7 linked regions of the Homo sapiens genome follow. The protein of the gene in region 1 purifies or fractionates together with the protein of each later gene. This does not show direct contact. Each region holds a gene or a part of one and is shown in the gene's direction. Other genes may lie near its edges.

The links.
Region 2: the proteins of SLCO4C1 (region 1) and ATP11C purify together in Homo sapiens (affinity purification with mass spectrometry; one large-scale study listed by BioGRID and IntAct). This does not show direct contact.
Region 3: the proteins of SLCO4C1 (region 1) and PDK1 purify together in Homo sapiens (affinity purification with mass spectrometry; one large-scale study listed by BioGRID and IntAct). This does not show direct contact.
Region 4: the proteins of SLCO4C1 (region 1) and ADIPOR1 purify together in Homo sapiens (affinity purification with mass spectrometry; one large-scale study listed by BioGRID and IntAct). This does not show direct contact.
Region 5: the proteins of SLCO4C1 (region 1) and PDXDC1 purify together in Homo sapiens (affinity purification with mass spectrometry; one large-scale study listed by BioGRID and IntAct). This does not show direct contact.
Region 6: the proteins of SLCO4C1 (region 1) and ATP12A purify together in Homo sapiens (affinity purification with mass spectrometry; one large-scale study listed by BioGRID and IntAct). This does not show direct contact.
Region 7: the proteins of SLCO4C1 (region 1) and KCNT2 purify together in Homo sapiens (affinity purification with mass spectrometry; one large-scale study listed by BioGRID and IntAct). This does not show direct contact.

The regions. Positions count from the first base shown.
Region 1 is NC_000005.10:102,247,785-102,251,284, reverse strand, and holds part of SLCO4C1 (solute carrier organic anion transporter family member 4C1), read left to right. Parts: intron 1-1,496; coding exon 1,497-1,647; intron 1,648-3,500. UniProt on the Homo sapiens protein: Mediates the transport of organic anions such as steroids (estrone 3-sulfate, chenodeoxycholate, glycocholate) and thyroid hormones (3,3',5-triiodo-L-thyronine (T3), L-thyroxine (T4)), in the kidney.
Region 2 is NC_000023.11:139,800,554-139,804,053, reverse strand, and holds part of ATP11C (phospholipid-transporting ATPase IG), read left to right. Parts: intron 1-1,714; coding exon 1,715-1,818; intron 1,819-3,500. UniProt on the Homo sapiens protein: Catalytic component of a P4-ATPase flippase complex which catalyzes the hydrolysis of ATP coupled to the transport of aminophospholipids, phosphatidylserines (PS) and phosphatidylethanolamines (PE), from the outer to the inner leaflet of the plasma membrane.
Region 3 is NC_000002.12:172,597,590-172,601,089, forward strand, and holds part of PDK1 ([Pyruvate dehydrogenase (acetyl-transferring)] kinase isozyme 1, mitochondrial isoform 2 precursor), read left to right. Parts: 3' UTR 1-3,500. UniProt on the Homo sapiens protein: Kinase that plays a key role in regulation of glucose and fatty acid metabolism and homeostasis via phosphorylation of the pyruvate dehydrogenase subunits PDHA1 and PDHA2.
Region 4 is NC_000001.11:202,941,313-202,944,812, reverse strand, and holds part of ADIPOR1 (adiponectin receptor protein 1), read left to right. Parts: intron 1-867; coding exon 868-1,055; intron 1,056-2,594; coding exon 2,595-2,788; intron 2,789-3,111; coding exon 3,112-3,240; 3' UTR 3,241-3,500. UniProt on the Homo sapiens protein: Receptor for ADIPOQ, an essential hormone secreted by adipocytes that regulates glucose and lipid metabolism. Required for normal glucose and fat homeostasis and for maintaining a normal body weight.
Region 5 is NC_000016.10:14,978,026-14,981,525, forward strand, and holds part of PDXDC1 (pyridoxal-dependent decarboxylase domain-containing protein 1), read left to right. Parts: intron 1-2,857; exon of another isoform or gene 2,858-2,948; intron 2,949-3,500.
Region 6 is NC_000013.11:24,693,908-24,697,407, forward strand, and holds part of ATP12A (potassium-transporting ATPase alpha chain 2), read left to right. Parts: intron 1-536; coding exon 537-671; intron 672-3,500. UniProt on the Homo sapiens protein: The catalytic subunit of a H(+)/K(+) ATPase and/or Na(+)/K(+) ATPase pump which transports K(+) ions in exchange for Na(+) and/or H(+) ions across the apical membrane of epithelial cells.
Region 7 is NC_000001.11:196,426,941-196,430,440, reverse strand, and holds part of KCNT2 (potassium channel subfamily T member 2), read left to right. Parts: intron 1-683; coding exon 684-864; intron 865-2,171; coding exon 2,172-2,336; intron 2,337-3,500. UniProt on the Homo sapiens protein: Sodium-activated and chloride-activated potassium channel. Produces rapidly activating outward rectifier K(+) currents. Contributes to regulate neuronal excitability.

The DNA.
Region 1 (3,500 bases):
CAACTCCTAGAATTACTTCTTTAAAACGAACTTTTGACAGTGTCACTTTCCATTCTAAAAATACCTTAACGATTACCTTTTGTCAGGCCCATGTGGCTCTCAATTAAACTGGTCCTTTACTCCTGTCCAGCTACATTTCCCATCACTCTGTGCCTCAGACATCATTCATATTTCTCCACAGAGGATGCTGTTTCTCTACCCTATGCCTTTGTACCAGCTTTTTCTGAAGTACGTTTCCCCTTCCCCATTTGACTGGCTTACTTGTACTCATTCTTTATATATTTTTTACGATTTTTTTTGTATGGAGTCTCACTCTGTTGCCCAGGCTGGAGTGCAGTGGCGCAATCTTGGCTCATTGAAACGTCTGCCTCGTGGGTTCAAGAGATTCTCCTGCCTCAGCCTCCCGAGAACTGGGACTACAGGTGCCTGCCACCATGCCCAGCTAATTTTTGTATTTTTAGTAGAGATGAGTTTCATCATGTTGGCCAGGCTGGTCTCAAATTCCTGACCTCAAGTGATCCACCCGCTTTGGCATCCCAAAGTGCTGGGATTACAGGTGTAAGCCACCGCACCAGCCTCTTACTCATTTTTTAAATCGCATCTCAGGCAGTAGCTCCTCCAGCCCCTTTTCTCTAAACTTTGGCTTGTGTTAGGTGTCCTTCCTTGGTGCTTCTAAAAGGCACTTTGCTGATATCTGTAACCACACTTAGCATATTACTGAATAATTATCTAAGTCCCTCTCTACTTCTAAACTGTGAAATCCTTGAGGGCAGAGACTGTCTTATTCGGCTTTGTATTCCCGTTACCCAGCATAGGGTCTAGCAGTTGCTCAATATATGTTGTTTGAATGAATAAATAAATGAGGTATAAGGGATGCATTTTTGATTAGTGTAACCCTTTATATTAGGGAAGATGTTTTCTCTAAGAGGCAGCTTGCAATGACACTGAGCCTGGGGACTGGGAAAATTATATTTGGTAAGGAAAGAAAAGTAACTTAATCTCCCTGGACCTCAGTTTTCCCATTGATGAGATGATTATGTTCAACAGCATGATTTTGTTCATCCTTCCAAGTTTAAAATATTGTCTGCATCCTGGACATATTTGGCACTGTATGGAGATATTTTGGTTGCTGTAATGAAGGAGAGTGCTACTGGTATCTGGTGGAAGTCAGAGAAGCTGCTAAACATTCTATAGTCCATAGAACCAACCCCACAAGAGAATTACCTGGTGCCAGATGGGAAACTCTTGTCTTCTTCACTTATTCTGCCTTTTATTTTAAATTACTGACAGATACTATACTATATGACTATTGTTTTTATTGCCTCTCTCCGACAAGAAGTTAAACTTTATGTGCAAAGGAAGACGTTTTATTTGTTTAGTAATTATGTGTTGAGTGAGTGAATAAATGACCTAATGGTAAGATATAACAGTGCTTCGAAATTGTTAGTTAAAAGTTATGACAGATCATTTACCCTTCTTTCATTTCTTATTTACAGGACTGGAGAATTGGGAAACTTGATAGCCCCTTGTAATGCCAATTGTAACTGTTCGCGATCATATTATTATCCTGTCTGTGGAGATGGAGTCCAATATTTTTCTCCCTGCTTTGCAGGCTGTTCAAACCCAGTTGCACACAGGAAGCCAAAGGTAGCTTATGTCTCCTACTTTTCCCTTAATGAGGCAATATGTTTGTGGATTATCTTGACTTCTCTAATGGGGTTATGCAATGCCTATTCTTGCCTTCCTGCTCCATTGCCTCCGTTAAGCAGCCCATGATGTCTCCAGCTGAAATAGATTCTTTTTCCTTCATGCCTCTTGCAGTTATTGTTGAAAAATCAATTTGGAAGTTACAAACATTTTAGTAACATCACTTTGTTGCAGTTATGAAATATCTTTTACCTTTTCAAATTGTTTTATAGTCATCCCTCACAATACATGGGGGATGGGTTCCCGGACCCCTGCATATACCCAAATATGCCATACTTAAGTCCTGCCGATGGCCTTGAAGAACTCGCTTTAAGTCAGCACCTCAGTATATATGGGTTTTGCATCCTGCGAATACTGTATTTTTGATCCATGTTTAGCTGAAAAAAAAAATCCGCATGTAAGTGGAGCAGTGCAGTTCAAACCTGTGTTGTTCAAGGGTCAATTTTATTTTTCCCTAACTATTTAAGATCTTTGAAGGCAAGAGAGTTTTCCTATTTTCACTAGGTACAGTTTATATAATAGAAACTTAGTATTTGTTTTATTTGATATACCATGAATACACTTAAAATATTCAAATCAATTTATTTTTAAATACAAATTCATATTTAATTCTGGATCTGAATACTAATCAGTGTGCCTAGATGTTATTTCTTTTCTGTACAGTTAAATAGTTTAAAAGAACTCAGTACAATTTTACTGTACTATATCTTAGAAACTAAATATTTCATCTTAGCTAAACTTAAGAACCTTGGAAATAAATAATATTCAGATTATGAGTAGTACGCAGTATAGTATGCATTGGTAGATAATGTGATAACTTTAAAAGGATCTAAGGGAAATATATACTGTGGTATAAAAGAAAACAATGAATAAGATGTGTAAGAGTTATATGACAATTTTGAATATTTGAATTTTTTTCTGTATATATGACCAATAAATGCTATTGACTAACTTTGATTAGAAGCAGATTATGACAAGGAGTTATTAGGAAGGGTTTTAGTCACATAACTAAATATATATAGACACAAATACCATCCTGCACAAGGGAACAACACAGAAAATCTAATACCCAGAGCATACTTAAAATAGTTTTTGTTATTTCGATATGGTTAATTTAATATTTATATTTTTCACCAAATGCTAAGATAATTACTATCTTACACAGCAAGTTGTCTTCTAGAATTTTTTAGGAAGAGCAAATGATTTTGACTTGCAAATTTTCTATTTGTCCTGACTTTTTTATGTCCAATCAGTCCATGAAATAATCAATTGATCCACAATATTTTTCTTATGAAATATTTCAGATAGGCAATATACATTTATAATACTTTTAATAAGCACCCATATACATTTGTTCACAGCAATACAGTTTTAATCTTATATTTCACACCAGTGACCCAAACTACAAAATCTGACCTTGACTAACTGCTATATTGCAGGCAAATGAGAGTGGTAAAGTTTCATTAGGATAGAAAATACTGTTCTCAGTTTCTCTCCTTAAAATTTTTAAAGGCTGAATTACCTCATTATTTGATATATCTGATTGCTGAATATGTAATAGTCAATTTTGGAGGTGTCATCTGCATATTTGGTTTTCCTGAATTGGTACCAGTGGTCTTAGAATGGCTTTAGCACCAAAAAAAAAAAAAAAAAAAAAAAAGTTTCTGGCCTTTGGAACAATGAAAGCACTGCTTCTCTTTGATTTCTCTGGCTCTGCTCTGATTCGTTGAGGCCTTAATGTCTAAAAAAGATTTATAGTAAGGATAAAGGATATGGAAGGATGGAGTTGAGAT
Region 2 (3,500 bases), on another chromosome or scaffold:
TGTAGGAAACCCAACCTGGAGTAATTTGATTGCTATTTAAAAATAATACTTAGGGCTGGGTGCGGTGGCTCACGCCTGTAATCCTAGCACTTTGGGAGGCTGAGGTAGACGGATCATTTGAGTTCAGCAGTTCGAAACCAGCCTGGCCAACATGGTGAAACCCTGTCTCTACTAAAAATACAAAAAAATTAGCCGGGCATAGTGGTGGGCGCCTGTAATTCCAGCTACTCGGGAGGCTGAGGCAATAGAATTGCTTGAGCCCGGGAGATGGAGGTTGCAGTGAGCCAAGATCACGCCACTGCACTCCAGCCTAGGTGACAGGGTGAGTCTCCATCTCAAAAAAAAAAAAAAAAAAAAAAAAAAAAAAAGATAGGGTGTAGTTTGGAAAATGTTTGCTTTATAAGTAAGTTATAAAGCAACATTTTATGTACATATAACAAATTATAACTCATTTATAATTGCAAGTGACTTAAAGTAAATTTGGCCAAATGGGGGTAACTTATTTCCCTCATACACTTTCTGGCACAGTCGGTTTTCTTGGCCATGGTCCAGAGCTCCACAGGGCATGAAGATGTATCCTCTCTATGCTGCCTTTAAGGAGGGTTACTCATGTGGCTCACCTCTGGGTATGTCCTTGGAGGGCTCCTCTGTTTGTTTATTCCATCTGGAGTTGAGGACTACGACTCAGTATGTAAAAAAGAACCTTTACCTGTTGGATGACTAATTCTGTATTTCAAAAGCATGGTAATGACCTGCTTTTAACCTTTTCAAAAACAAAGTTATAATTTAGGGAATGTCAAGATATAAATCAAGAAATCTACATAAAGATTTCCTGATAGTGAAAAAGTTGTTTGGAGTAAGAAAACTTTCAGATAGTTTCTTTTTTCAGTTAAGTTGTTCTGATCAAATCAGCTAAAAGTACAGAGGTTTTCAAAATCAGGAGATAGTTTTAAATATAGTTCAGACATTGCCGTAATATTTCCCCCAAGATGACGACAACAGCTTTCCCTTCTGCCTAAGTGGTGCGCTCTTTGAGTCTGCTTTAACCCTTGTTTGATGATTTATAAGTGGGTTCATTGGCGCCTGCCTTGAGTTCTGGATGAATCAAGTGCATAATATACACTAGTAGAATATTCTAATTATCTGACTAATGCAAGACACGTCATCTCCCTGCCCCTTGTACAAAATGTATCCATATTGAACATTTTCAAGATCATTAATTAAGCTATTTGTGTAATGGAACTATTAATGATTTTTTTCTTGCTGTTGGCAAAATTTTAGCATTTTTGTGACCAAAAAGGTTATGTTCAATTCATATGTGTATATCTCCATTGCCATACACTATAGTGAGCAAAATAATAAGTCTCAGTTCTGTAAATAGGAAAAAAAATAAATGTATTAACTTTTTCACGTGGTTTTAGTTAATTATATGCATGTTGTGAATAGAATTCTCTCAGCTGTCCATGTCAAGAAGAGCTTTTAGGTTTTTAATTGTCTTTGAAACCCTCCTTGCGGCAGGTTATCTTTCTAATTATTTGTAATATATTTTCATAATAATACCATAAAACTTATTAGTGGGAAATGTTAATATTTGTTTATTCTGCCAAAGCCTCTTACTAAAACATAAACTAAATTTGTTTCTGAAATCAGTTGGGTGTATGATTATGAAAAGAAAGTTTTTTTGGTTTTCACTTTTTCTTCTGCTTTCAACTAGACACATTATGCAGTACGTGATACCATTGCACTGTGTACAGCAGAATCCATCGATACCCTCCGAGCAGCAATTGAATGTGAACAGCCTCAACCTGACCTCTACAAGTAAGAATCACCTGGTTTCATTTTACTTCTGTTTGTTGGCTCTGCTTCTCTTTGCTAATAGTATTGCAAAAGAAACACCCACCACTTACCAGCCTACTCTCATTTGTGTTTTTATGGGCGATTCCTTCCTTCTGGCAGAAAAATGAATCAAATCAGCCTTGTTCACTATCAACCCAGAATAAATCATTGTGGGCCCAGGTATCTTATGATTTTTCTTTTATTTTTATTACTTGTAAACATGGCCATATATCAAAATTTTAGATTATGTTACCCTGTAAGGCTGATCTATCAGACTGATGCAGTAACCAGTTAATTAAATAAAAAACAAATCCTTTTACATGCCATCTAACATTAAAGAGAGAAGGGGGATATCCTCTTCATGCAATTAGTAGGTTCTATCCTTTCTTAGAATGATCATGATGCACTAAAGATTGCAAATAGGCTCTTTCTTGTCCACAGTAAACAGTTAAGGGATGAGTACAATGGTGTAATTTCCTCTATTTTACTATACTTAGGCTCTCTGGAGTAGGTTTGCTGATTATTAGTCATTGTGGGTTGTCAAAAATTGGCGTTTGATTTCAAGACTGGTTAGTTGGGTTGATTAGAGCATAGTACTAATCAGGGTAGTGTAACAGGTTTTATCCCCACGTGGGCTAATTAATTTTATCCTATTCTACCGTTGCAGATGGCATCCATTACCCATCTTGTTAATGCATGCTGTTAGTCATAATGAGTGACCAAGTGGTTGGATGTGGTTTACACTAACACCTAGTAGTGGAAAAACAAAGTATTCATTCTACTTCAAGAACAATGACCTCCCTCCTTCTCATCACTTTTTCTTTCCTCTTTCCCTTCCTCTTCCGTATCCACCTTGATGATAGGAACTAGGGCCAAAAAGTGTAACAGTTATTCTCTACCTTCAAGGGACTCACTGTGAGCAAGAGATGAAGTAATAAAGCTAAGCTTATACAAGGTGATAATAGAGGTGAGTGTAAGGTCTATGGAATCACAGAAAAGGGAGTAACTTATTCTGCCTGAGCTAGAGAACAATATCTATACCCTTGCATATTTATAGGGAAATCCCCACATTTTTCAGTTGCTTTAAGTATGAAGGAGAATGATAGGACAGGGAAGGTTATTCCTTATTTCCTTAGACGATTGAATTCCTTGCTGTGTGACTTCGGAATACCTTGTACTTCTATCACTCTAGTGGTAAGCACTTGCGTCGTAATTGCCTATTTACTTTTATAGGGCAAGGAGCCATTTCTTTTTTGCTTATTAGTACATCTTCAGCACTTAGTATAGCACTGGCACAATTAATATATGATGAATGAATGAGCAAGCCTTCATATTTTGTGTATATGAGTAATATATATTTCTATTTTCTGGGGAAAATGCTGTTTACGATGCAGATTATAAAACACTGATGTTAACGAGGGATTAGGTATTTTTACCTTATTTTGCAGAAATACAGGTTACCATACACCTATTATATTAAGTGATTGGGTCAAGCTCAGTATTGAGATCAACTACAAGTCACAGGCTGGACATTTCCAAGATGGCATTCAAGTGTTCACTGTCTAAGACTAGTACTATGGTTTAAAGAGTGGTTTCAGGACCAGCAGCAGCAGCATTACTGGGGAACCTGAATCAGAAGCTCAGGGATGGGACCTAGAAATCTG
Region 3 (3,500 bases), on another chromosome or scaffold:
GTATCATTCTCTTTCTCACTCAGTGTGGCCCAGAGTTGCTCAGAATTGGAGCAGAGCCTGAGACGTATCTGCAGATCCTGTCATCAGCTGGCAAGTCCAGGAGACTGTGTCATTTAGAGACTGTGTTGTTAGTTATCCCTCAACATCTTCTAAGGTGGCAGGAAATAATATTGGAAATAACATTTTAAAGTAAAAATTTTAAAGTTTAAAGAAGAGTTTTGCCACTTAAACAGGGGAGCTTTGTCTGGAAAATACACTGAGTTGAAACACTTCATCCTTGGAAGGATTATATAAGATGAACAGTTGTGATAAATGTGTAGATTAGAGGGATGTGAATGGGCAGTTAGTCCAGTGCCCTCATTTAAGAGGCCAAGATCCTGATTCAGAGGAGGCATCCTTTGCCCAGAGCTGCTTAGCTAATCTGACCAAATGTTGGGAAAAATGTCTCACCTAACCCACTATTCCTTAATTATGGATTTTGTGAAAAACAATAGAACATGTTAATGAGTAATTTATATTAGTTCGATGTATTACAATTTTTTAGCTTTAAATTACAGTTTTCTTATAATGTTGAAATGTTTTAGAATCCTTTGAATCTAAGTATTTGTTTCCTAAATGAAACATTTGTACAACATTTGATGTTTTTACTTATGAAATATTCTCCTCCCCCAAGAAAATTTAAACTTTTTCTCTCTATTTAAAAGCTAAGAAATGTTTTAAAGGAAAAATGAAATTATCTTCCTTTAGCTTATTTTTAAGGTAAAACAGCTTTTTACTCTGTTATTGTGGTAATGGACAGAATATTACATACAAAAATATTCTGGGAGAGCTTTTTCCTAGTTGGTTTTAAATCATTGTGCCACCTGAAAGGTTTTTAGATTTTATAGGAGCTAATTTGTCCACCAGCATTAATGTAACACAGTGTAGTTATGAAAATATATTGAAGGACAGGAAGTGGACACGAAGTGATTTTTGTAACCTGAGCAGTTAATGAATGTGCCAACATTTTCTAGGAAGGGACAGCAAGAATATTCTGCTCTGTAGTTAAAATACTGGCTGGCTTTTGATGTCTTCATGCTTAATTGTGATCACTTTCTTGCACTGTGATGTTTTTACGTGAATATGTTGAAGTAGAAGTCTACCATATTATTTTATAAAATGTTTTCTGTATGGCAATAAACTGAAAACATGGATCAACCCTTCTTTTGAAAATAAACTGAGTCAATTTAGCCTTTTAAAAATATAGTCATCTCTTTTAAATAGAATCCTCTTCCACCATCAAGGCTCAACATTTTGTAAGCATCCAAAAAATTGGTAATTAGGGGGCTTGCACTAAATTTCACTATCTTCAGTAGAGAGGAACTGTTTGGAACTTAGATTTCCAATGTGTATATTCTAATGGAGAAAGCAAGAGGTAGAGTTTGTATGTTTGACTTACCTTAGATTTTTATTTTCCATACATACTGCAAATGATTGACTTGTTGCATAAATGAAGATCTTCTGTTGTGTGCTTTTCAAACACTGTAAATAAATTTGAAATTTGAATAACTTTCCACAGTATAACTGTAAAAAAAAAAAAAAAAAGTCTTAATTTAACCAGCATTACCCTCTGCTTGTACCAATTGAATGGCAGAACTACTATAGTCAAAAATAAATTCCTATCCTATTTTTAATTGATGGGATATAGGCAGCACAATTTCCCTTCATTGTTGAAGCCAACAAGTTCCGTAACAGAACTCCAGAGGTAAATAGCTGGGAAAACTGTTAGTTTTAAGGTCCCACTGTTGCTCTGTGAATGACTAATCAGAGGAAGCCAAAAATCAGCCAACTAATTTCAGTTTATGTCTTTAATTGTGATGTAAGTGTGAAGTTTCTACATATGGGTAATCAGGGTTGAGTTAGGTAGTTTGCAAACATGACTTTTGCTGGAGGAACTTTTAATCATGTCTTATTAATTTCTGGTCCCAATAATTAATTTTCTTACAGTCAAACCCAATGCACTTGAAAAATAATATAATTAATACTGTGTGAAGAATTTTTTGCATGTTAAAAAAAGCAAACCACTAGTTTGCTTAGTTCTGGCATTCATAAACTACTGTACCTTCTGTTCTATTGACATGTTTGGAAAAAAGAATTGAACATATGTACCACCCCCCTCTTTCTAGAGTCTCCACAGTTCTTTAGCAATTGCTAACCATAGGTTTTTAATAGCAAAAGACAAGATTGTCAGTTTTTGGTGCAAAACTCTACTCTTTTTGGTTGACTTGGAAAAGCTGTTGTTTATATTGGGAATTGTGACAGCTGTCTTTTACTTTGTTAAATTAGCAATTATTTAGCAAAAATACAGAGTTTCACCCCAGTAAAATAAACTTCCACGTGAGAGTTGTGTTCATTCAAGGGTTATTTTTTGAGAGTGGAAGTACATTTCCTGCATTTGTCACAGATAATATCAGAAATTTTGTTGTTTTGATTAAAATGTTGCCATCTACTTATAAGTTAAAAATGCTGAGAAGGTTTTTTTTGGAAACAGTTTATGAGGCCAGGACATTTTTAAGTTTGACTCAAATATAAAAAGCCACAGTATTCTTGCCATGGTTTTGTACTTAGATGTCTCTCATTATGGAATTCAGAATGTGACAGTTATAGTACTACATGAAAATACTTAATATAGAGTTCTACAGTTACAGTATTGCATGAAAATACAGTATGGTATGAAATTATTTGTCCAAAACTGTACTCCAGAAATGGAGCCCATATGATTATATAACTATAAAATAGGATGGGACAGAGAAAAATATGTCTGTATTACAGCATAAACATATCTGGTTTAATATGAACTATTTCTTTTCATCTCTTTACTCTCAGTATCTCCATAATGGCCAGTATGTAGTAGGCACCTGTAATTGTGAAGCAGCCTCATTGTCTGGGGTAAATACCAAGGTTCTTGGTCTCATGGCCAAGGAGATCGAGGTCGCAGACACACACAGTTTGGAGCAGGAGTTTAATAGGCAAAAGGAAACAGCTCTGTTACAGAGAGGGGTTCCGAGCAGGTTGCCAAGTTGTAGTAAAAATGTCAGGGTTTTTATAAATGGGCTAGTGAGGAGGGGGCTCATGAGGAGGGGATATCTTATCCTCCTAGGGTCCGAGGACGCTTTAGTTGGGACCAGGTGTGCTATCTGTACAGAGCATAGCTTTTTATCAGCTCTTATCCCATTCCTTGACCACATAGGCTCTTAGACTCTTATTCTATGTTGTCTTCGTCCAGCTTATCTGGAAGGGAGAGTTTCTCTGTCTGTTCCCATACATCTTGCAGCTGCAGGCATCCCCCCGGTCTGCTTTTAGCTTCCTTATCTTAGTGCCCCTAAAGGGAAAGGAATGTGCTTATTAAGGGCCACTGTTTTACTGGGGTTAACTGCATGAGGTCAAAAAGAGCTATATTTGAGCTGCTGTTTGTTAAAAGAAAAGTTTTCTGCCGGGGACTCGCTTTACCCTGTCTACCT
Region 4 (3,500 bases), on another chromosome or scaffold:
ACACTTCATGAACAGACTTACTGCATCCTCTTCAACAGATGGAGAGACCAATTGTGGAATATATTTTCTACCTGAAAAGCACTATCTTTTGTGAGGCTTAGAGTGCCAGTGCACTGGCTGCTTTCCAAGACCTTGTACAAGCGTAACTTACTATTAGCCCAAGCCAAAGTAGGGTGTGGTAAATAGTCTATGCTTCATTCTGCTGGTGCTCCTACCCAGCAGTCAAGTAAAGCTTATCTTTGCTGCCCATGCATTGCTGGAAGCTCCAGATGTCCATCATCGTGTGCTTTCTCTCTTGCCCAGCCGTGAGCCTGAGGTTCTATTTGTTTGCTTGTTTTTGTTGTTATTGTTGGTTTTGGTGGCGACAGTGGTGTATTATTTTGTTTTTTCTAACAACACCAGTAAGAAGGTACATTTTCCTCATTTAAAAAGTCAACTAAGATAGAAAAAGCTAGAGTATCCCTTAATACTACTCCCAATTTAAGAATTTTGTTTTTAGAACTCATTCTATCAGAATAGGAGAATTTTCAAAGCCTTTCCTGAGTGTGATGCTGGGAACCAGCTGGATTGTGATGGAATTTCTAAATTCAAGTGTCTACTATGGGAGATACGGCTGTTCACTAGTAAGGGAAAGGGATAGAGTTCTTTGAATGGGGATTCTTAGAGATTTTTCCATCGTAAAATAGAAGTGACCTTGTGGAATTTTAATCCAGAATACAGGATAGATTGTATGGGAGTCTACAATACAGGATAGATTGAGGGAATGGTTAAATCTGGGAGCAGGTGGAGAACAGAAAGAGCTAGTTAAATGAGCCATACAAATTCATTTCCCCCACTGATTTGTTTCATTTTTGTGGTTCTTTTTAGACTGGACTATTCAGGGATTGCTCTTCTAATTATGGGGAGCTTTGTCCCCTGGCTCTATTATTCCTTCTACTGCTCCCCACAGCCACGGCTCATCTACCTCTCCATCGTCTGTGTCCTGGGCATTTCTGCCATCATTGTGGCGCAGTGGGACCGGTTTGCCACTCCTAAGCACCGGCAGACAAGAGCAGGTAGGTCGGAAGATGTACGTACACCTCAGAGGTATTTAGACCTTAGGCCTGATAGGCTCAAACCTATTTGAGCCTTAAGGTTTGCAGCTTGAGAACCCCACCCAAACCCTGATTTGTGTTTCAGAACTTTCAAAACAGCATCAATTTCAAAGCTCAGTTCTCAACCCCCAGTGTCATACTATTTCAGTAGAATGCCAATAGGACAGATCATTACCCAGCTGGTCAATTAACTGCAAGCACAGATGTAGCTACTCTTATACTTGGTTTGTGACAGTTTAAAAATGTAGCAAGCACAGTAATTTTAGTGACCCGAGTCCCAAGCTCAGACCAAGGGATTAAAATTAAAACACTCAGAGGCATTTTACTAAGGGAATGGAATACCTGGTTTGGTGAATGAAAATACCTTGAGCATAAACAGGTAACAAAGTAATAGCTACAAGCATAAACATCTTTGTGTTGTCTCATCTCATCTGGACTCTTATTTTAAGCTTTTATTACTTGCAGCAACACCACCAATTACCACTAGTCTTTAGTCCCTTTACAATTAATATCTGCTATGTTTTAACCTTCAGTTAAAATAATTAAATATTGTCCGGGAGCAGTGGCTCACGCCTGTAATCCCAGCACTTTGGGGGGCCGAGGCAGGCGGATCACTTGAAGTCAGGAGTTTGAGACCAGCCTGGCCGACATGGTAAAACCCTGTTTTTATTTAAAATATAAAAATTAGTCGGCGTTGTGGCAGGTGCCTGTAATTCCAGCTACTTGAGAGGCTGAGGCGGGAGAATCACTTGAACCTGGTCGGGGGCAGAGGTTGTAGTGAGCCAAGATCACGCCACTGCACTCCAGCCTGGGCAACAAAGCAAGACTCTATCTCAAAAAAAAAAAAGAAAGAAAGAAAGAAAAGAAAAAAATAATAATAATTAAATATTTATCAAGCACCAGCCACGTGCCATGCACTGTGCTTAAACAAAGGTATTTACAAAGATGGAGAGGTGGTCCCTGCCCTTCAGTTATGTGTAGTGTAATGATGAGACACATACCCATTCTTCCCTTGCTCTTGCCTTACTTGTGTGTCCCAGCAGCTACAGGATAACTGCTAATCTGGGTATATCTGTCTACTCAGGAGGTCAGAGTTCTGGTTATGTAAGACTTTTATGATCTTAACAGGAAGCCTATCCTATGCTTCTCTGACTTGGGAGGCAACTGAAGCCTTGACATCTAAGTTCTGTACCCAAGTTAGCCATCAGAGAGTCTTGACATACCATTTTTACCTAAATTCCTTAACAGATAATGAAGAATATGAGATCTTTGTTCTTGGTGCTTAAAAGGTAGTAAGCACTTACACAGCTTCTTCCCATTCAGGACATAGAAGAAATATCTGTTGAGTGTTATCCATCTTGTAGCTAAGTTTCCTAAACATGTACTATTCATCCAAAAATAGCTAATTATCATAAACATTGAAATTCCAGAGTAAGACAGCAGTGCCTTCCATGCGGTGGCTGTTTCCTTGTTTGACAGTCTTATGTCTGTTCTGTTCAGGCGTGTTCCTGGGACTTGGCTTGAGTGGCGTCGTGCCCACCATGCACTTTACTATCGCTGAGGGCTTTGTCAAGGCCACCACAGTGGGCCAGATGGGCTGGTTCTTCCTCATGGCTGTGATGTACATCACTGGAGCTGGCCTTTATGCTGCTCGAATTCCTGAGCGCTTCTTTCCTGGAAAATTTGACATATGGGTAAGAAATGAATCTTCCAGCAGGTCCTGTGATGGTGAGTGAACAGCCCAAAGTTAAAGGGCTGAGGAAAAGGTGGTATGAGACTGGGATCATATAGTGTTTGGAGGTACATATATGTGCATTGAAGGTAAATCATCAATATTAACATTTTGGTGTATCTCTGACAAGGACTGTGTTTTTAAAACTTTCTAAATATACCACTTTAATGTTATTAACAAATTTGTTTAATTAAGGATAAACTAGAAGAAGCAAATGCTTTCTCCTACTTGTTTCTTATTCCTCCTTGCATTATCCTAAAGGCTCTTTTCTTTTTATTCCTACAGTTCCAGTCTCATCAGATTTTCCATGTCCTGGTGGTGGCAGCAGCCTTTGTCCACTTCTATGGAGTCTCCAACCTTCAGGAATTCCGTTACGGCCTAGAAGGCGGCTGTACTGATGACACCCTTCTCTGAGCCTTCCCACCTGCGGGGTGGAGGAGGAACTTCCCAAGTGCTTTTAAAAATAACTTCTTTGCTGAAGTGAGAGGAAGAGTCTGAGTTGTCTGTTTCTAGAAGAAACCTCTTAGAGAATTCAGTACCAACCAAGCTTCAGCCCACTTTCACACCCACTGGGCAATAAACTTTCCATTTCCATTCTCCTAGCTGGGGATGGGGCATGGTCAAACTTAGCCATCCCCTCCTCAGCAAGGCATCTACCGGCCCCTCACAGAGAC
Region 5 (3,500 bases), on another chromosome or scaffold:
AGTTCTGTCCCTTGCTTTTTCTGTTATGTAAACGTGCAGACCTGTGATAACAGAGCCATTTTCTCGTCACGATTTGCTTTTCTTCCACAACAGTATCAGTTTTCTTGTATCTGAGATCAGTGATGTCCCAATAAATCAGATGGGTTAATTGAGGAGGCAAAGGAAATTCAAACTTAGGAGAGTAGGAGTAGGGGCTTTGCCCCTGCCCCCCACTGTATGTCCAAGGCATAAGGAACAAGGCCCTGTAGCAGAGTCTCACAGTGTGTACTTATGTTAATATTCAATAAGGAAAATGCCACAGGAAGTAATCACTATAATGATGAAGATTTTAAGTTATTAAACACACCTTCCAGTAAAAACCTGTTATATTATTATTATTTTTGAGACAGGATCTCTCTCTGTCACCCAGGCTGGAGAGCCGTGGTACAATCTCGGCTCACTGCAACGTCCGTCTCCAGGGCTCAAGTGATCCTCGCGCCTCAGCCTCCTGAGTAGCTGGGACTACAGGCACTCACCCCCACACTGAGCTAATTAAAACAATTTTTTTGTTCTCGAGACAAGGTCTCACTATATTGCCCAGGCTGGTCCCAACCTCCTGGGCTGAAGCCATCCTCTTGCCTTAGCCTCCCAAAGTGCTGGGATTATAAGCGTGAGCCACCGTGCCAGGCCAAAACCTGCTACTCTAAACTTGTAGAATAGCCCAGACCTTTTTCTGTTGGTTAAAAGATCTCATTCTTCCTGGGTATTATGTTTAGGCAAGGTATACTGCAGTTTGTTTGCATTTACTTTAATTCTGTCCTTGAGCAAACTTAAAGCAGTTTCTCAGCGTCAGCACTAGTGATATTTTGGGTCAGATAATTTGCTGTTATGGGGGCTGGCCTGTGCATGGCAGCATGCTTAGCAGTGTCCCAGACCTCTGCTCAGTAGATGCTAGTCGCACTCCCTACACCCAGTTGTAACAATAAGAAATGTCTCAAGATGGGGGCAGTTGTCCCCCAAGGGGTAGAGGGAATTGCCTGTCATTGAAAGTCCCTAATTTAGGGAATCTAGAGCTACAGTTCCGGTTTGGTCACCACTAGCCATATTTGGCAGTTTACATTGAGATTAAAATTAAACACAATTTAAAATTCATTTCCTCAGTCATGCTAGCCACATTTCAAGTGCTCAGCAGCCACATGTGGCTGATGTCTGCTACACTGGGCAGCACAGATGTGGAACATTTCCATCGCAAAGAAGGTTCCACTGGACAGTGCTAAGAGCTGGCAATTCGTGTTTTTTTTTTGAGATGGAGTCTCCCTCTGACGCCCAGGCTAGAGTGCAGTGGCACAGTCTCTGCTCACTGCAACCTCTGCTTTCCGGGTTCAAGCGATTCTCCTGCCTCAGCCTCTCAAGTAGCTGGGATTACAGGCACCCACCACCACACCTGGCTAATTTTTGTATTTTTAGTAGGGATGGGATTTCACCATATTGACCAGGCTGGTCTCAAGCTCCTGACCTCAAGTGATCCACCCGCCTCGGCCTCCCAAAGTGCTGGGGTTACAGGCATGAGCTACTGTGCCCAGCCAATTACTTGTTATATCTAATTCTCATCTCTGAAAGAGGCAACTTTGACCCTGTTTCTGACCTAAATCAGCACAACTCAGCCCATTTTTGGTTCTTGAACTCATCCTGAGCTAAGTGTTTCTTTCCTGCTATTTGGGACTGATTTTAGAAAATTCTTTGTCACCTTGCTGTTATGCTAGAGGTTTATAGCAGCATCAATGGAACATTCCTGATCATTACTTACTGATAAGGACTCCGAGAATTTCTATTCCTGCTCCTTCCTTAAAAAGCATGAGAAAAGAACCCCTGTTAGGCAAGGTTGAAATGACCAGTTTCCGTGTATGGCTTTGTAGATCCCACTCTTTTATATAGAATGAGAGGAGATGAGAGGCTGTAATTGTAGCTTTCATATAAAGCCAATTCCAATGTTACAATGTGAGGGTTTTGCATACAGATGCATGGTGGCTATGGCTGTAAATGATTATCTAATACTGGCTGTCAGGGAAAACTGATGGGACTCGGCCATAGTACAAAGTTCCTGATCCTAGATATTTATGGCTTTGTTCATTCTTGATTTATTCAATTTTGCAGGGGAAGTCAGTGGCAGAGCTATTGATGGTCCCATTTCCGTCTTTGCTCCACTATATCTAGGATTATATGAGTTATAGGTAGAAGTTGGTTGAGCTTGATTTCATCTGTTGTCACCTAAAGCAGAAACCTGTTTTGATTTATAATTTTTTTTTTTTGAGACGGAATCTTGCTCTGTCACCCAGGCTGGAGTGCAGTGGTGCGATCTCAGCTCTATGCGACCTCTGCCCCACTGCAACCTCTGCCCCCTGGGTTCAAGCAATTCTCCTGCCTCAGCTTCCCGAGTAGATGGGATTATTTTTGTGCCACGCCCGGCTAATTTTTGTTTTTTTTATTTTTTATTTTTTTGAGATGGAGTCTCGCCCTGTGGCCTAGGCTGGAGTGCAGTGGCACAGTCTCGGCTCACTGCAAGCTCCACCTCCCAGGTTCACGCCATTCTTCTGCCTCAGCTGGGACTACAGGCGCCCACCACCACACCCAGCTAATTTTTTGTATTTTTAGTAGAGATGTGGTTTCACCAAGTGTTAGCCAGGATGGTCTCGATCTCCTGACCTCCACCTCAGCCTCCCAAAGTTCTGGGATTACAGGCATGAGCCACCGCGCCTGGCCAATTTTTGTATTTTTAATAGAGACGGGGTTTCGCCATGTTGGCCAGGCTGGTCTCCAACTCCTGACCTCAAGTAATCTGCCCACCTTGGCCTCCCAAAGTGCTGGGATTACAGATGTAAGCCACTGCACCCGGCCTTGATTTATAATTTTTATTAATCGAAGGTGAGCTGTGGTCAAAGCCCAATGCTGAGTGCTGACAGAGACACAAGGTGAGTAAGATGTGGCCCCTGCAGGAGGTTGCGTTCTGGTAAGGGAGTATACTTTTTTTTGGACAAATCCTTGTATAGAAAGGGATAAAAAGCATAGGAATTAAGAAACAAATTGTGAGTGCAAGGAGCAAGTGACCAGGAAGGATTATGTGAAAGAGATTCTTTAGGCAGAATATTTAGCTCAGAATTATGCTTTTCTAGAGTTTAATTGTAAATATAATGCAAACCTTTACTTTACGAGTGTGCCTCATATTATTGCTGGTAGATAAAAATCAAGAAACAGGAAAAGCATTTCATCTTTACCTTTCCGATTTGATCGCTCCCTAACAATCCCTGAACAAGGTAAATCCTGAATGGTGATAATCATTCAACCTTCATCTCTGCTAAAAGCATTTCTTTTCCTCCCAGGCAAAAACAAACAGTGCCTGCTGTCTAGCACTAGTTAAACTAGTTAAACACTGCCTATAAAGCTTATCTTAAGGAAGAGTTATAACAGTATCTGCTTCTGTTTAGCAGTTTTCTTTTTGTTCCAGAATAAAGGTGTGATTCCAG
Region 6 (3,500 bases), on another chromosome or scaffold:
ATCCCTCCTGGGGTCTTTCTCGAATGCCACTAATTTCCCTTAATGGTGCTTTTATAGTCACTTAACTTTGCTCAAAATCTCTCCGTACTTCCCTGTTTTCTGCTTCTCAAGTCTAGACCTCAGGCTACCTTTCAGGGCCCTCCAGGTCTTGCCACACCCTCCACATCCGCTTGTACCTTGAACACTCACGGACGAGCCTGCCCCTCATGCCCCTGCACCCGCATCCTGGTTTCTGGAAGGCTTTCTTCTCTGTGTATCGGTAACCCACCTATCTATCAAGATCTAGTTCGTAGCTGCTTTTTTCCACGAAATCTTCAGTCCTCGCAGAGGTCCAGCTTCTCCAAACATCCCTAATGCCAGTAGGTGGCACTGTTGTTTACACGCTTACCACGGTCTTGCGGCCCTCCCTGATCACGTGATAATGTCTCTCCAGCTAGGTGGTAATGGGATCAGGAGGGTGTGTTTTGGGTCCTATGCTGAGGGCATGTTGGTTCATTAAATATGTGCTGCAAATATTTTTCTTCTTTGATTCCCAGAAAGCTGTGATTGGAGATGCCTCAGAAACTGCTCTTTTAAAATTCTCAGAGGTCATTTTGGGTGATGTGATGGAAATTAGAAAAAGAAACCGCAAAGTAGCTGAAATCCCTTTTAACTCTACTAATAAATTTCAGGTGAGTTTTTCCTCACAACCGGTAATCTCTGTCATCGGCAGCATGACCTTTCTACTTGCATGCATCCTTTGCTTACCTCATATTTTGAAGGATACCTGGCTTCAAAGACAGTCGTCAGGGATACAGCACCCAGGCATCTGGTCCCCTAGGTCAAGCTCCCTTGCTGGCCTCCTTCCTAACCCTGAAGCAGGGCAGAGAAAGAAAGAAAGGCAAGGACTTCATCAGGGCCTGGCTGCTCCTATGAATGAGCCATCTCTGTCACAGGCACACACTCTCTCTCTCTCACACACACACACACACACACACACTCACACCACCACTATCAGGTACCTTCTGCCGTGAGGAGCAGCAGCCATACTCCAAAGCATAAATGCCAGGTGGGCAGCAGGGAGGCCGAACACCTGCTCCTCTCACCTCTAGTGCATCAGGCCCTCGACCTACGTGGCCTTGTTCCATGTTCGCATCCGGCCTGTGAGGTAGGACTGACGAATCCTGACTCAGAGGAGGAAGCAGGCCCTTAGAAAGTGTTGAGAGACCAGAGTCACACAGCACCCAGTGTTCCCAAGCCTGACACCAGGTCCACGATTCTTCCACCATCACACAGAGGGAGTGCGGCACAGTTCAGGCCATGGGAGCAAGCCCTGCCCTTTGGGGAGACCGGTGAGCAGCCCCTGGGGTGACAGCCCCGTCGTTTTCTGGGGCCAGCCCCTGTGCTGTGGGTGGGGGTCTCCTTTCCATCCCCTGCTCAGGTAGAAGACGGCCTTCCTTGCCTGGTTATCTCAGCAAGCAGGGCTGGCCGACAGTCAGCCATCACAGCCTCCCCATGTTAAGACAAATGACAGTTGGGAGCCCCAGGTCCCCATGCAGATGGGATTTTCCACAGAGCCCACACTGGATCTGGACTTGGGCTTTGCACAACAGTAAAGTATAGAAATGGAATAACCACAACTGTACGTGTGGAGATTTCTGGTGATTATCCACCTGTCTTAGTTCGGATGGAATTTAGGGTTAGGGAAGAACTCTTTTTTTTTTTTTTTTTTTTTTTTGAGAAGGAGTTTCACTCTTGTCACCCAGGCTGGAATGCAGTGGCACGATCTCGGCTCACTGCAACCTCCGCCTCCCAGGTATAAGCAATTCTCTTGCCTCAGCCTCCTGAGTAGCTGGGACTACAGGAATGCACCCCCTGCCCAGCTAATTTTTTTGTATTTTTAGTAGAGACAGGGTTTCACCTTGTTGGCTGGGCTGGCCTCGAACTCCTGACCTCCGGTGATCTATCCGCCTTGGCCTCCCAAAGTGCTGGGATTACAGGCGTGAGCCACCAAGCCCAGCCTAGAGAAGAACTCTTGTGTTGCAAATGTCTTCTTTGTGGATAGTGAGCCAACAGAGAATCACAGTTAGCTAAATAGACAACTAACCAGAAACATATGATGTAAAATACTCAAGCCAAGAAACCACATCTCTTACGTAAAACCAAAGTGAAAATAGAGTGCGCAACAGTCCTAAAAGACTGTTTTAGGATGAGTATTATTATACTAATAATACTAGTGATAATAGGAGCTATTCTGTGCTAATTTCCACAAGTATTAAATTATTCATTCGCACGACAACACTGTGGGGTGGCTAGAGGATGAGGAGGTTGAGGTGCCGCGCATCAGTGCACAGTGTGAAGATGGGGTTAGATGATGCCTCCATCAGCAGCAGGACTTGGAGCCCTGCTGAAGCTCCATCTCCCAAGGTAAAGGCATGCCCAGTTGCAAAAGGGAGAAAAAGCAGGTTCCATGAGGCCTCATGTACAAGTTGGAGGAGAAAGTGGCTACACAGAGTGGGACTAGAAAGGGGAGAGGGGGGCCGGGCGCGGTGGCTCACGCCTGTAATCCCAGCACTTTGGGAGGCCGAGGCGGGTGGATCATGAGGTCAGGAGATCGAGACCATCCTGGCTAACAAGGTGAAACCCCGTCTCTACTAAAAAAAAAAATACAAAAAATTAGCCGGGCGCGGTGGCGGGCGCCTGTAGTCCCAGCTACTCGGGAGGCTGAGGCAGGAGAATGGCGTGAACCCGGGAAGCGGAGCTTGCAGTGAGCCGAGATTGCGCCACTGCAGTCCGCAGTCCGGCCTGGGCGACAGAGCGAGACTCCGTCTCAAAAAAAAAAAAAAAAAAAAAAAAAAAAGAAAGGGGAGAGGGGCTGTGTGAGTTCCTGCTGAAGAGGTCGGAGGTGCTGTCTGGATGCTGTTAGGGTCATTTTATATCTACACATGAGCGGTGCTCAGCCTCACCAGGGCTTTAGATGTCATGGCCTTGGAAGGAGACGTCTCTGCGGGAAGGAAATAAAATGGAAAGCCTGTGTCTTATTGATTAGAATGGTGATGCCCCAAACACACTGGTCTGTTAAGACATTTGAAACAGTTTACGGCAAATTGGAAAATGTTTTATAAAGTTTTATATAAAGATGAATGTATTTAATTTAAAAGATTATCCTTTGTAGCCACCATGATTAAGGGCAGGGACTCTGGAGCCTGCTAGCCTGGGCTCAAATCCCAGCTCAGCCACCAGATAGCCACCTATTGCTCAGTGACCCTGAGTGAAGCATTGAACCTCTGTGCCTCAGTTTCCTCCTTTGTAAAAGGGAATAATAATAGTACCCATGGCCTTAAAGTTGTTTTGAGAATAAATAAGTCGATGTGGACAGCACTTAGAACAGTGCCTGGCACGTGGTACATACCATAAAAGTGTTTCATATTATCCCTATGTTTTAAATGTAAAAAGCCTTATCTTGGCCAGGTACAGTGGCTCACACCTGTAATCACAGCACTTTGGGAGATCGAAGAAGG
Region 7 (3,500 bases), on another chromosome or scaffold:
GAGAGAGAAAGAGAGAGAGAAAGAGAGAGAGAAAGAGAGAGAGAGAGAGAGAGAGAGAGAGATCGATCTTGTGAGGGAGCCCATTCCCAGGATACCAACATTAGTTCATTCATGTTGGTGGAGCCCTTATGACCTAAACACCTCTTAATGGTCTCACCTTTTAGTGTGGTACAATGGCAATTAAATTTTAACATGAGTTTTGGAGGGGACAGCATTCAAACCATAGCATTTGGCAATTGTTAACTCCTCAAGCCTTTTACTGTCTTTCTCTTCTTCCTAAATTATAAAAAAAGAAAAAGAGTCTCAAAAAAATTATAAAAAAAAAGAAAAAGAAAAGACTTGGTATTTTGGTAGGGATTAGAGGTAGCGATTTCTTGTGTTGATGTTCATTCAGTGTCTATGTGTATCACCCATGAAATTATCTGTTCATTTTGCATGTTACTCAAATATACTGTGTGATATTTTAGCTACCACTTTTGTCTATTAATCAAAATAAGATCATGTCTGGTCAATGTAGGACAAGAACTTACTAATTATATCTTTCCTAGAAAAATATATTGTAAAATATAAGAGGGACTATTAAATGGCTTTATGAAATGTGCTTTGGCTTTCAAAAGAATAATGATGAGAAATTATGTGTCCAGTTTGAAAGATTTAATTGTAATGCATATTTGTTTCTTTAGCATTTGTGGGATCCAACATCTGGAACGAATAGGAAAGAAGCTGAATCTCTTTGACTCCCTTTATTTCTGCATTGTGACGTTTTCTACTGTGGGCTTCGGGGATGTCACTCCTGAAACATGGTCCTCCAAGCTTTTTGTAGTTGCTATGATTTGTGTTGCTCTTGTGGTTCTACCCATACAGGTAAACAAAACCATCTTATATTGCATAGAAATGTACAGAGACATGAAATTGAATCCTCCACATTTAATAAGAAATGGAAAGTGGCTTATTTATCTAACACTAATTTACTAACACATACTATCATTACATTTAATCAATTACATAAATTACTGCAGAAATGTCATTTTACATTTTATTAGAAACACCGAGTTGCTTTTTTTTCCTTCCAGTCATGACTGACAGCACTCATCTTATTTCAATCATTCAAGATTTTTTTTAGTATAGGGTACTTAATTATATTAAATATAGAATAACATAGTTTTTAATTATAGGATGATAGATCAAAGAAATAAATTTGTGAAGGGTTGATTTCTCTTGGTTCTTCAAAATAAACCACAAAGTCATACACTGCAATGAAGAAAAATCTATTACTTATGTTTGTCAAATAAAATCTGGGCCAGGTGCAGGGCTCATGCCTATAATACCAGTATTTTGGGAGGCTGAGGCAGGTGGATGGCTTGAGCCAAGGAGTTGAAGATGAGCTTGGGCTATAAGGTAAAACCCCATCTCTACAAAAAAAAAAAAAAAAGTCTGAACATGGTATGTAAATATTATGTGGCACTTTGGGGAGTGAGTAGGGAGGTTGCAAAGGGATGGATATATAAATGGAATTAAAGATAAGTAGATGCAATCTCTAACTCTTTCCTATAATAAGCCCTGGCTGCCCATGTGTGGGCAGATCAGAAGCAGGCTATAGGGAAATGCAAATCAAACTTGCATATTCCATTGCAAAACTTTGGCCGCAATGTATCTGAATAGAATACCTGCAAAAATGGCCTTCCTGCTCCGATAAATTCATGCATGTCTTTCTTCCTGACATACCCTCCCTTGCACCTTTCACTTTCCTCCGTTAATGGCTACTGTACAGCTAGAATGTGGCCTTGTGTGTTATGGTAAGAGTAACTCCTATTGCATGAGATATGGTTAGAATTTGACAGAGAATGTGGGAAAATAGCAATGAGGCTTTTCTCTTTCACTCAGCTCTACTGGACATAAAGCAGAGGTACAAACCTCTTAGTGGCCTGTTATTATGTGATAGCAAAATCATGTTAATATGTTTCCTTAGAGACCCGAAGCCCCTGGGAGACATTTGCAGCCTCTGTAGAAATTATATGAAAAGTCTGTCGTTGAAGGGGAATACTGACAATTAGAATCTCAATGAGTTCCATCTAGGAAATTGAAAATACCTAATAAACAATAGATGTATTGCATTGATTTATTTATTTCCTTACTGTGTTTTTCATTCACATGTGGAAAATATATTACAGTTTGAACAGCTGGCTTATTTGTGGATGGAGAGACAAAAGTCAGGAGGAAACTATAGTCGACATAGAGCTCAAACTGAAAAGCATGTCGTCCTGTGTGTCAGCTCACTGAAGATTGATTTACTTATGGATTTTTTAAATGAATTCTATGCTCATCCTAGGCTCCAGGTACATTTGGCTTATATTATGTGCTATACTGGATCATACCTACTAACATATTGTCAAAGTCAATTAACTGATGGTGCAGCCTGCTTTGTGGAGGATTTTTATTTATACAACCAAATATAGAAGGAGTAAATGAAGAACCACAAATATAACCAGGAACATAGAAAAAAAATGCTGGAGGAATACTCAGTATTTTAAGTTTCCTTCTGTATCTACGCTGAAAGACAGATGGAATAATGTTAATGCTACAAGAAAATTTTTCTTTGAATTAAAAGATTGCTTTTTCTCCCTTGGGTAGAGCATAAATGATATTTTTATGGAACAGTGAATTTTAAGATAAAATATAATAAAACAAGAAAGAAACCATTTCAATATCATCTGCTCAGTTAAAATACTGCAGAATTTTATCAAGGATTGCTAATGGAAATGTGGAAGTCTGGGACTTTCATTTTTTTCTTTTGTTTCCTGAAGTATAAATATATCCTATATGTATAGCAATACATGACCAAAAATTGGACAATAACTAGCTGAATTGAGAATATGAATTAAGAAGAAACTTTTCTTTCTGTCTATGCAGATAAAATTCTTGAATATTTCCACTTTCTGCTACGGGCCATGGCATTAATCTCCTTTCCTGCTTACTGCACTTAGTCTGTTGAAGGTCTTGTATTTACTCAACAAAGTTTTGTCAAGAAGTAGAATAACTCCAGACTTCAAGACAATGCTTAGTATTTCTAATTATCCTTTCCTTACAAAACATAGAAATATTGATTTGTGAATATTTTGTAGACCTTTATAAATACTATATTTTTGTGTTTTAAAACACCTAATTTATAATTGATTCTTAAATGATAGAATCATTTTGTTCTATCTTAAATGGCAGAATCATTTGGTTCTTATTCTTTTGTTTTCATATGTTAACTTGCATTTTTAATAGCAACTCCATACTTGTTTTTTTAATTATTTATATTTAATTAATTTCAAGCTTACTTATCATAACTCATAAAGGAAATCCATTTGTGGGAAAATTTTGATCCCATGGTGTATTAGCCTGCTCTCACACTGCTATAAAGAATTACCTGAGAGAGGATAATGTATAAAGAAAAGAGATTTAATTGGCTTACGATTCCACAGGCTATACTGGAAACATGTCTGGGGAGGCCTAAG